4 separate regions of the Homo sapiens genome follow, and all the other regions are linked to region 2. Evidence: fine-mapped expression QTL. A gene starts in region 2. Each other region holds a variant in brackets. All regions are shown on one strand. Distances are from middle to middle.

The links.
Region 1: its variant is fine-mapped to the expression of HELT in unexposed skin (GTEx, PIP above 0.99).
Region 3: its variant is fine-mapped to the expression of HELT in sun-exposed skin (GTEx, PIP above 0.99). The same link has a PIP of 0.9 or more in testis.
Region 4: its variant is fine-mapped to the expression of HELT in unexposed skin (GTEx, PIP 0.93).

What each region holds. Positions count from the first base shown.
Region 1 is chr4:184,988,280-184,990,963 of GRCh38, reverse strand. It overlaps LINC02437 (long intergenic non-protein coding RNA 2437), which reads right to left and starts at 1,617. Exons shown (of 2, transcript XR_001741949.1): 1 at 1,498-1,617. The variant G/A (reference allele first, on the strand shown) is at 1,231.
Region 2 is chr4:185,017,284-185,019,967 of GRCh38, reverse strand. It overlaps HELT (helt bHLH transcription factor), which reads right to left and starts at 1,478. Exons shown (of 4, transcript NM_001300781.2): 1 at 1,013-1,478; 2 at 477-581; 3 at 125-221. The coding sequence starts at 1,039. RefSeq lists enhancers at 489-1,068, 1,069-1,647, 1,648-2,228.
Region 3 is chr4:184,984,147-184,986,830 of GRCh38, reverse strand. No RefSeq gene overlaps it. Among named protein-coding and RNA genes, the nearest start is that of LINC02437, 3.9 kb to the left of the region's middle. RefSeq lists an enhancer at 2,542-2,684. The variant A/G (reference allele first, on the strand shown) is at 1,617.
Region 4 is chr4:184,979,907-184,982,590 of GRCh38, reverse strand. No RefSeq gene overlaps it. Among named protein-coding and RNA genes, the nearest start is that of LINC02437, 8.1 kb to the left of the region's middle. The variant A/G (reference allele first, on the strand shown) is at 1,211.

The DNA of each region.
Region 1 (2,684 bases), 29 kb after region 2:
TGATGGCTTTGCACCAGCCTCTGTGTAGCCTGCCCATTGAACGTCAGTTTCCTGTGTTTCACATTTCAGATTCTGTGAGTCCTCTTTTGCATAAAACATAAGCAAAATATTCATCTGATAGAATAGTTTAACAAATCTGTGGATTGGGGGAAATAAAAAGGCAATTGATTAAGTTGCAAGTATGTCATTGGAAGAAAGAAATGCAACTTGTCATTTATGACATCATTATCACTTCCATATAGCCTGCCCTGACACTGCATAATCTAACCCCTAACACTTCACTGTCAAATCTGAGGCGCAGGTAGTGATTTTGAGAGGTGACAGCGTGCTGGCAGTCCTCACAGCCCTCGCTCGCTCTCGGCGCCTCCTCTGCCTGGGCTCCCACTTTGGTGGCACTTGAGGAGCCCTTCAGCCCACCACTGCACCGTGGGAGCCCCCTTCTGGGCTGGCCAAGGCGGGAGCCCGCTCCCTCAGCTTGCAGGGAGGTGTGGAGGGAGAGGCGCGAGCGGGAACCGGGGCTGCGTGCGGCGCTTGCGGGCCAGCTGGAGTTCCGGGTGGGCGTGGGCTTGGCGGGCCCCGCACTCGGAGCAGCCGGCCGGCCCTGCTGGCCCCGGGCAATAAGGGACTTAGCACCCGGGCCAAGGGCTGCGGAGGGTGTACTGGGTCCCCCAGCAGTGCCGGCCCACCGGCGCTGCGCTTGATTTCTCGCCGGGCCTTAGCTGCCTTCCCGGGGGGGCAGGGCTCAGGACCCGCAGCCCGCCATGCCTGAGCCTTCCACCCCCTCCACGGGCTCTTGTGCGGCCCGAGCCTCTCTGATGAGCGCCGCCCCCTGCTCCACGGTGCCCAGTCCCATCAACCACCCAAGGGCTGAGGAATGCGAGCGCACAGCACGGGACTGGCAGGCAGCTCCACCTGCAGCCCTGGTGCAGGATCCACTAGGTGAAGCCAGCTGGGCTCCTGAGTCTGGTGGGGCCTTGGAGAGCCTTTATGTCTAGCTCAGGGATTGTAAATACACCAATCAGCACTCTGTATCTAGCTCAAGGTTTGTAAACACACCAATCAGCACCCTGTGTTTAGCTCAAGGTTTGTGAGTGCACCAATCGACACTCTGTATCTAACTAATCTGATGGGGACTTGGAGAACCTTTGTGTCTAGCTCAGGGATTGTAAACGCACCAATCAGCGCCCTGACAAAACAGACCACTCGGCTTTACCAATCAGCAGGACGTGG[G/A]TGGGGCCAGATAAGAGAATAAAAGCAGGCTGCCCGAGCCAGCATTGGTAACCCGCTGGGGTCCCCTTCCACACTGTGGAAGCTTTGTTCTTTCCCTCTTTGCAATAAATTTTGTTACTGCTCACTCTTTGGCTCCACACTGCTTTTATGAGCTGTAACACTCACTGCGAAGGTCTGCAGCTTCACTCCTGAAGCCAGTGAGACCACGAGCCCACCGGGAGGAACGAACAACTCCAGGCGCTCTGCCTTGAGAGCTGTAACACTCACCGTGAAGGTCTGCAGCTGCATTCCTGAGCGAGTGAGACCACGAACTCAGCAGAAGGAAGAAACTCCAAACATACCTGAACATCAGAAGGAACAAACTCCAGACGCGCCACCTTAGGAGCTGTAACACTCACCGCGAGGGTCCGCGGCTTCATTCTTGAAGTCAGTGAGACCAAGAACCCACCAATTCTGGACACAATTACATGTGAAAGTGTTAAAGCACCTCTCAAGTCAGAATGAATTCCTTACAGGCCAAGGCAGCTGAAGATGATGTCTCTGGCTTCGTTGCTCTTTTGTTGGTTGAAGACAGGGTATGGGTGACATTTGATTCAGATTGGGTCAGAATTCGGCGCTGTGATGTCGTGCGCAGCTCCGGTCTCCTGTGACTTCCCAACGCAGGGGCTGGAGAGGAGGGCATAGCCTCCAAGCAGCCCTCAGCAAACCAAAGACCCAAGGCAGCCAGACAGGCAAACAATGCTAATTAAAGTGGTTTCCAAGCGTTCCAGAGTATGTGGGAGAAACTATACCCTTGGAAATGTTGAAATGTTTTCTAAGCAAGCACATCCAGTTCCCGGGCAGCTCCAACTTGCTTGGCTCTCATTTGCCCGACGGCTCAGCTGCAATGCTGCCTAGGAAAACAATCATTGAAAGTCACACAGGTAAGGCGTGGTGTCACAAATCAGTCACTCCCTGCTGCTTGCCACAGGGACAAACTGATGACGTTGCAGGAGACACAGATGTCTTTACCTCTGAGTGGGAGACTGATGTGGCCCCACTCTCTCCATAGGAAGCTGTGACCGAGGACAATGCTCGGAGCAAACCTCTGGGTGGTTCCCAGAATGTGGGGTGACCCAGCTGCATACATGAGCCTGTCACACCACCCCGGGCTCCCTGTCACCAGCACTCATCTGGGCGGCACAACCTTCTCAGAGTGGACTGGGAATGTTCTCATCATACTGCATGTATTCATTTTCTATTGCTTCTGTAGCAAATTACACAAACTTGGTAGCTTCAAATGACACAAATTTATTCAGAAGTCCAAAATCGGTTTCATGGAGCTAAAGTAGAAGTGTTGGCAGGACTGGCCTCCTCTGAAGCCTCCAGGGCAGAATCGCTTTGCCCTTTCAGCTTCTAGCAGTCACCCTGATTCCTGCACTTGTGGCCCCTTCTTCTGCCTTCAAACTGTCCCT
Region 2 (2,684 bases):
CCTCCTGGAGAGTGGAGCTCTAGTAGAGCTCTCGGGAACACTCAGTCACTCCCCTCCCAGCCCCAGGGTCTCTGGGTGGCGCAGGCGCCTGGCCCAGGCGTCCCATTCCCTAACCTGTGCCCACCTTTTTCCCTTCCCCGGGGAAAATCAGCGGAGTGCAGTGCTCTCAGGTACTGAACGGTCATCTCGAGGATCTCCGCCTTCTCCAGCTTCCCGGAACTCTGCAAAAGGAGGAAGGGCCCCTCGCAGCGGCCCAGCGCCTGCTGGTCGGGCACTGTGGCGCTGGAGAGGACCAGCGAGCGGACGCGGCTGCGGATCTGCGCCAGAGCCTCCTGAGGTTCGCCCTGCGCTCAGGCCCCCCGCCTGGGAGGGGCCCGCAAGTGAGGTCCTCTGTGTCCGCGGGCTCGGGCGTCTCCGCAGAGTGGCCGCAGAGGCCTCCCAACGCCTGGCACCCGGCTCCGGGTCGCCAACGTTACCTGCTTCGCCAAGGCCATGGGCACTGTCTTGCCCAGCTCGTTCAAGCAGCGGTTGATCCTGTCCCTCCTCCGCTTTTCTATCACTTTATGAGAAACGGGGGTTCTCTGCGAAGAGAGGGTTGTATGTTTAGGATGGCTTTGCCCGGGAAGTCGTCAAAGGCGCGGCTCTAGCAGCTGGGTGCAAGCCGCCTCTCCAGCCGCGCACACTGCTCAGATTCGCTCTAGGAAGGGACTCCTGGCCCGCCACGCTCGGGCCAGGTGAGCTCTGCCTTCTGACGCCCGCGCTGGCGCGCTCCCCTTCCAGCCACCCTACCCAGGCCTTTGGGGAGGTGGCCGCCAGCCTCCAGGCAGGACTTCTACCTGGTTGAGCACCCTCCTCTCTCTACCCCACCCCCTTCCCAAACCACTCGAGATTCCTCCACACTCAAAGTCCCGTGCGGGCACTTCCCTGCCATCGGTCCACCCAAGTGGCGGGTCGGTGAGTCAGATGCCTCCACCACCAGGGCGCAAGTGCCATTTGGGCTCAGCCGACTCACTTTGCGTTCCTTGAGCTTGTCTGACATCCTGGTCAGTACGCGCCCTCGGGAGAGGCGGTGGCGCGGGGCACCCGTCCACTTTTCCGCCTCGTGTGCCTCCTCGAGTGTCCCAGGTAGACTGCAGCCTCCCAACTCCGAGGGCTGCCTTATAAAGCGGTCATCTAGGGCTCCAGATGCATTCACGAGTTGAATTATTCCATAGGATTAGGGGAGCTGCGTTTGGAGGATGTATGCATTCAAGATCAGTTTTAAAGAAGTTAAGAAAAAAAAAAAATTAGCAGCCGAGGGGGGCGAGCTGGGGGCAGATCAGCTTTGTTAATCCACGTGGCCCTTCAAAGGACACGTGATCGGCCCAGGAATAACATTTGCATGGCAACAGCTCGGGCGGGAAAAGGAGGCGGTAAACTGGGGCCGGCGGGCGAGCAAGCGCCTGCAGCAGTCGCGGGCGCGGAGCGCAGGGGCGCAGCGGCCGCGGGCACCGGGGGGCGAGGACCCTCACAAAACAGTGTCGCCTCTTTTAGTCCCACCGCTGAGTCTCACATGATCGCCTGTTTACAAATCCCAGCAAGCCCGCCGTCCCAGCGCCGAGTGCGTTTTAAAGCCTGTCCAGAGTCATTAAAGTAATTAAGTAAGCCTTTAATAGGCTGTTCCGCCGGGTTCAAGGGAGAGCTCTTGGAGACGGAGGCGCCCCGTTTGTTCCCAGGCTTTTCTCACACGACTTGGTGACACGTCCTTCTCCCCCCTTTTTGTTTACACCGCTTTATTTGTCCGGACATCCCGGCAGGTGTGGGGCTGCGGCTGGCACACGAGGCTCCCGCCTCGCCTCGCCTCGCCCCTCCCGCCGCTGTTTGGCACGCGACGCTCCCCCCTACTCCCTGACCACGTCGCTGGCTTTCTTTTCTCCCCACCCCTCCTGCTCCCTCTTCGCGGGGGGAAGAGGCTCAATTTGTAGCCTATTATCCTATACGAAAATGTCCATTGAAAAGTATGAATAGTTTCATTGGGCTAAATTTTAATAATGCCAGAGGGTGGGGGAGGAGAGACTGGCGGGCGTGTGTGTGTGTTTGTGTGTGAAGGGGCGGGTGGGAGGATTGGGGGGCAACACGGAGAAGAGTGGGCCGAGAAGAAAAGGGGGAATGCAGCTGGCCCAGGCAAGCATTATGCAACGTCACCTGCGAGAGGGGGCGCCTACAGACCCCTATTCATTTGCCTAATTTTGGTCAATTTAACAAACTTCAGGAGAAATTATTGTGGCTTTGTCAGGGAGGGTGAAGCCTTCTGATCGAATTAACAGCATGTTTTGATCCGGTAAATGTCATTAGAAAGGGAGAAACAATCGCGCTTAGAGGGCTCTGAGTAATGCGCCCAAGTGGAGACGCCAAAGCGCACGGCTCACAAAGGGAGCAAGTAGCTGCCACAGGGAACTTTTGTACCCGCCCATCGCCCAAGTTTTGACACAAAAAGGCATTATTTCATACTTGAATACGTTTAATCCAACGATTGTCTATTTTCTGCAAACATATTTTCACAGCATTGTTAACTTTTTATGTCTCCCTTTCGCTGGCGTCTTTTCTTAACGTTTGGGGGCGGGAGAGCGCAGACACTTTGGGCATCAATATTTGTCACTGAAAAGGGCCCTGTGAAGTTTGGGAAGTTGATCTCTTTTTTATGG
Region 3 (2,684 bases), 33 kb after region 2:
ATGTTGCCTTACCTGGCCTCTTGGAGGCCTTGTTCATCTTCATCATTAATCTTAAGGGGTGCCAGGCCTGCAAGCTAGAATCCATGAGCCAGCCCTGATAGTGAGATGCCCACCTTATAGAGGCCCTTCTTCCTGCCATCCTCCCTTTAAAACTCATTTTCATTCCCCAAGGATTTCTTCATTGTCTTCTAGGAGCTTAGGCCTGGGGATGGGGACAACAGAGAGACCTTGAGAAACTTAACATTTCTGTTGAGCAAATGACCATCTCCGCACAAGCCAGAGAAAGGAAAAGGAACAGCCAGGCACTGAGCCTTGGCCAGGAGAGGGCTGTGCTTCCTTCATTTTAATTGAGCCTTGTGAACATCTTCTGAGGTAGATGTTACTCTTCCCTTGAGAAGGCAGAAGCCCAAGGCCGAGAGAAGTTAAGTCACTTGTCCAAGGCCACATGCTTAAGTTGTGGCAGAATCAGGATTCAGCGTTGCTCAGATGAGGTGTAAGAAGGCGTGGCACATACAGGTAGACAGGGCCAGACCTGGGGGAAGAAGGAAGGTGCACACCAGGCTGGAGGAATCCGGGACTGTGGGGAGAGCCGTGGCTGGGAGGCAACATAACATCCAAGTTCAAGTCCTGGGTCTGTGCCGTTAGCCTTTTTGGTTTTCTCAAGTGAGGACACTGGAAACGATGCTCTTTTAGCTGTGAAGTTAATGAATCCACTTCTAGTTAGGGGGTGAGACTTGAGCAAGTCTGGGAAAGAGATTAGAAGGCAGAGGCAAGCAGGAACAAAAACCAGAAAGTGAAGAAAAGCTTGTGTGCACTCAGAAAAATATCCAGCGCTATCTGGCAGACACCATGCTGGGACCTGTGCGCATCACAGGGAACAAAACAGAGCCAAGCCCTGATCTTCATGAAGGTTACACACTTGAAGGGAGACACACAAAACTGAAAATATTAGAAGGTGATGAGTGTCAAGGAAAAAAAAATGCAAAGGAAAAGGAACCAGGAGTGGGGTTGTATCCTAGATAGGATGGTCAGGGAAGGCCTCCAGTGAAGATGATATTTGAGCAGAAACTTGAAGATGACCGAGAAGTGGATGGGGTAGATTCTGGAGTATCCTGAGCAGAGGAGCAGCCTGCGTGTAGGTGCTGAGGTGCGGAGACGCTGTGGTTGCCATCTTCAGGGAGGGACAAGGAGGCTACCAGCAAGTGGAAGGTGAGGGAGGAGGAGAGTGAAGAGATGAGGCTAGTAATGTTGACCTCTTTCATTATGCAAAAACTTGGGGAGAAAAGTTCAGTGGTATAGGCATTCTATTTGTTGGATACAAATATTAGAAATTTTAAAATAAAAAGTTTTGTGACTTAGTCCAAAATTCTAGAGGACACGGGCCTCGGTCCTTGGTTAGACTCTGTGTCCAAGAAACAAATAGCATCCCAAGAATTGCCTCTCCCTCTCCCTGGGGACCTAGGTACCATGTCTCTCTTCTGCTCTCTCAAGGATATCCAAGGCTCTGCGCATGACTGAAGCATGCACAGACAATGGTTGGTAACATTTGTCACATTTTTACGTTGCTTTACATGACTTTTGTCAACATTGATGTGGAAACCAGACTGTCTAGCATC[A/G]CATGAGTTGGTTGTAAAAGCCATGGGTTTCTTGTTATTTAGAATGGCTTTTCCTAGCACTGGACTCCTCTGACTTTACCACTAATGGTGTGCTCTTGATCCAATCACTTAAATCACTCTGAGTGTTGCTTTATTTGTCTATTAGGTGGGTGGGTGTAGACTAGATGATTAGTAAAGTTCCTTTATTAAACAGATCTGAAAACCCCCTGTTCTACCCTTTCTAGCAAACAACATTCCTTTCACCCAGTGTCTCTCTTCTCAGAGGTCAAACTGGTAATTATCCATCCCTTTTGCCTGTGTGTACGACATGCATAATTCATAGGTAGCCTTGCAAAATGGAAACGGGTGTCCATTCCCTGGTCCCCACATGACTAGTGCTCATGCACCAGAAAGGTTACCAAGGACAAATTCTGTTTTTCTTCCACCTCCAGCCCCTCTCATTTCTACCAGCCCCCAAGACGTCTATATAATAATCAATTGCAAGACTATTTATCACCCATTTATACAATGTTAGATCCTGTAGTTCCATAGCCTCATGTGACAGCTAAGGACACTGAGGCTCAGAGAGATGGCTGACTTTCCCAAAGCCACAGAGACATGCCATGGGGCCGGAATGAAACTGCAGTTTCTGAACACGAGCTGAGATTCCTTCCCCAACTTCTTGTTGCCTCTATTTTGCCAAGTACTAACCGTGCCCTGCAAATTATAAGATGTCTAAAAATACGTTTTAAGGATGATGATGGAGAATTCTGAAAAGAAGCTTTTTTGTTTTGTTTTTAAATACGCCCTCATAGATCCAATGCAGTTGAAACGGCGATCAAAGCCAATTTCCCTAGAAACACCAGATCGAAAACACGTGGTGAGGCTCTGATCTGTAGTGCTTCATCCTAAACAATACATTTTACAAACCCTGAAAAATAAAGAAAAAGGAAAGACTCAAAAGAACATTCTGGGCCTGTCACGGTTGCTTTTCATCCCTTTTATCACTAGGTGTCCCCTTGGTTTGCAAAGCCCATCTGGAGGGCTGCGTCCCTGCACATCCTTCCCGGAGTGCAGGTGCGGGGAAGA
Region 4 (2,684 bases), 37 kb after region 2:
GATGCCAGGTGCATCCAGATGTTACCTGGAGCACTGGCATCAAACCTGCAAAGGGGTCTAAGGTCAGGATTCCCGTTCCGGGGAAGGGTGTAGGGAGCAGGGCAGGAGCTCTGGAGCAGGGGCAGGGAACTGAGGCAGATACTCCAGCATGAGGAGCAAAACAGGACTCTGTTTCCTGGTACTGGGGTATAAGGCAGAAGGCCCAGTGTTCACAGCAAGGTTAGAGAGAGTCAGAGTGGGCCCTATAGCTGGCTCACTGGATGCTGGCTGCCAAGCTACTTATTGGTCCTTCCATTTCTCCTGCAAGTCTAGAGTTGTAGACTTGCACTGTCCAGTATGGTAGCCACTAGCTTCATCTGGCTATTTATTTATTTATTCATTTTTTAGAGGCAGGGTCTCGCTCTGTTGCCCAGGCTGGAGTGCAGTGGTGTGGCCATAGCTCACTGCTCTCTCAACATCCCATGCTCAAGTGATCCTCCTGCCTCAGCCTCCTAAGTAGCTCGGGCTACAGGCATGCACTACCACACCCAGCTAATTTTTAAATTATTTTTTAGAAATGGGAATCTTGTTATGTTGCCCAGGTTGGTCTCACATTCTTAGCCTCAAGCAATCCTCTTGCCTTAGCCTTTTAAAGTGCTGGGATTACAGGCTATGAACCACTGTGCCCTGTCTTATGTGGCTATTTAAATTTATTTATTTATTTATTTATTTATTTATTTATTTAGCGACAGAGTCTTACTCTGTCACCCAGGCTGGAGTGCAGTGGTGCAATCTCAGCTCACTGCAAGCCTCCCAGGTTCAAGCGATTCTCCTGTCTTAACCTCCTGAGTACCTGGGATTGCAGGTGTATGCCACCACGCCTGGCTAATTTTTTGTATTTTTACTAGAGATGGGGTTTCACCATGTTGGCCAGGCTGGTCTCGAACTCCTGACCTCAAGTGATCTCCCCACCTCAGCTTCCCAAAGTGCTGGGATTACAGGCATAAGCCACTGCGCTTGGCCTTAAATTTAATTTTTAATTAACAAAACTTGAAAAAAATAAATTCAGGTTCTCATTTGTACTAACTACATTTCCAGTACTCAGTAGTGACTTGTGGCTAGTGTATGTGACAGCACAGATGCAGAACAGTTCCCGCCATGGCAGGAAGTTCAATTGTACCACGCTGGGCAGTGCTGAGCTCTGGCCTTTGGGGTGGAGTGATGGGAGTCA[A/G]TGAGGCAGCTTATTCCTGACACTTCAGAGGTCAGGAAGCAGAGAGGTCCTATAGTCGCCTATGTTTTGTGGTGGGATGTAAGAGGCAGCAACAGGACTGCCCTCCCTCACTTCTGCAAAACACTCGTGGTTGCTCCCTTCCATGTGCCAGGATTCCTGAAAGCCCCGTGGACACTCCTTTAAAGCACTGCCTCCAAAGAAGGCCTTGTAAAAATACACGTGTGATTTTAAAATGTTCATGCACTTGGATCCGATGATTCTACTTCTGGAAATATATCCAAAGGATATACTCATAGATATTCAAATAGAGATCCATAAAAGGAATATTCTACATTACATTATTATTTTTCTCGGGTCAGATTTAGGTGGGGTATACTTTACATACAATAAAATTGATCCTTATAAGGTAGACAGCTGGATAAGTTTTGCCAAACGTATACAGTCATGTAACCACCCCCATAATAAAAAAGCTTCCCATCATTCCAAAAAGTTCACCCATGCTACCCTTTGTGGTCAATCCCCTGCCGCAATCCCTAGCCCCTGGCAGCGCTGATCTGCTTTGCAGCTTGTAGTTTTGCCTTTTGTGAACGTCACACAAATGGAATTACAGGTGTGGCCATCTGCACCTGGCTTCTGTCATTTAGCAAATGTTTTTCGATGCATCCATGGTATTGCATTCATGGGTTGTTTGCTCCTTTTATTGGTGAGTAGTATTCCATTGTGTTGTCCTATAGTTTGTTGACCCATTTTCCTATCGGTGGGCATTTGGGTTGTTTCTGGTGTCTGGCAATCAGGAATAAAGCAGCTAAAACATTCATGTGCAGGTCTGTGTGGACCACAGGGCGCAGACATGCAAATGAATGTTGGTCTTCACATGAATGATTCCAGAAGTTGAATCATTTATTTACAGAGCGAGCTTCCAAGAAAAACCAGAATGTCTAACATCTAACATCTGATACCCTAAAGAATGGAGCAACCAAATGTAACCACTGACATTGCATTTTGAAAGGCTACTTGTGGCGTGGAAATATTTCACTTGTTTAGTGTTAAAAAGCAGAACACAGAACAATACGCTTTCAGGAGGAAACAATGGTCATCTCTGGCTCGTGGAGGACTTTTACTTTGTTCTTTCTTGACCATTTCTCTGTTGGGGTCTCTGAGCTGTCAGGAACCAGAAAACCATCCAGGTCTCTTACATGATGAGGTTGACCGTAAGAGGCTGCGGGACAACAAGGAAGGCAGGAAGGAATCTTGTCTGCAGAGGAGGCTGGAAGGGGCCATGTGGATGATGGCAACAGCAGCCCCTCAGAGATCTGCAGGAGCAGCAGGCTGCAGGCCCGGGGGGGCTTCCAGACACCCTGCCTGCTCTGTGCTCTCTCTTCCGTCTGTCCATCAGTCCACAAACTCTGAAGGAGTGACTTCCATCTGCCAGGCACGGCTTATCTCCCGGCATGTGGACGTGAACAAGGCACAC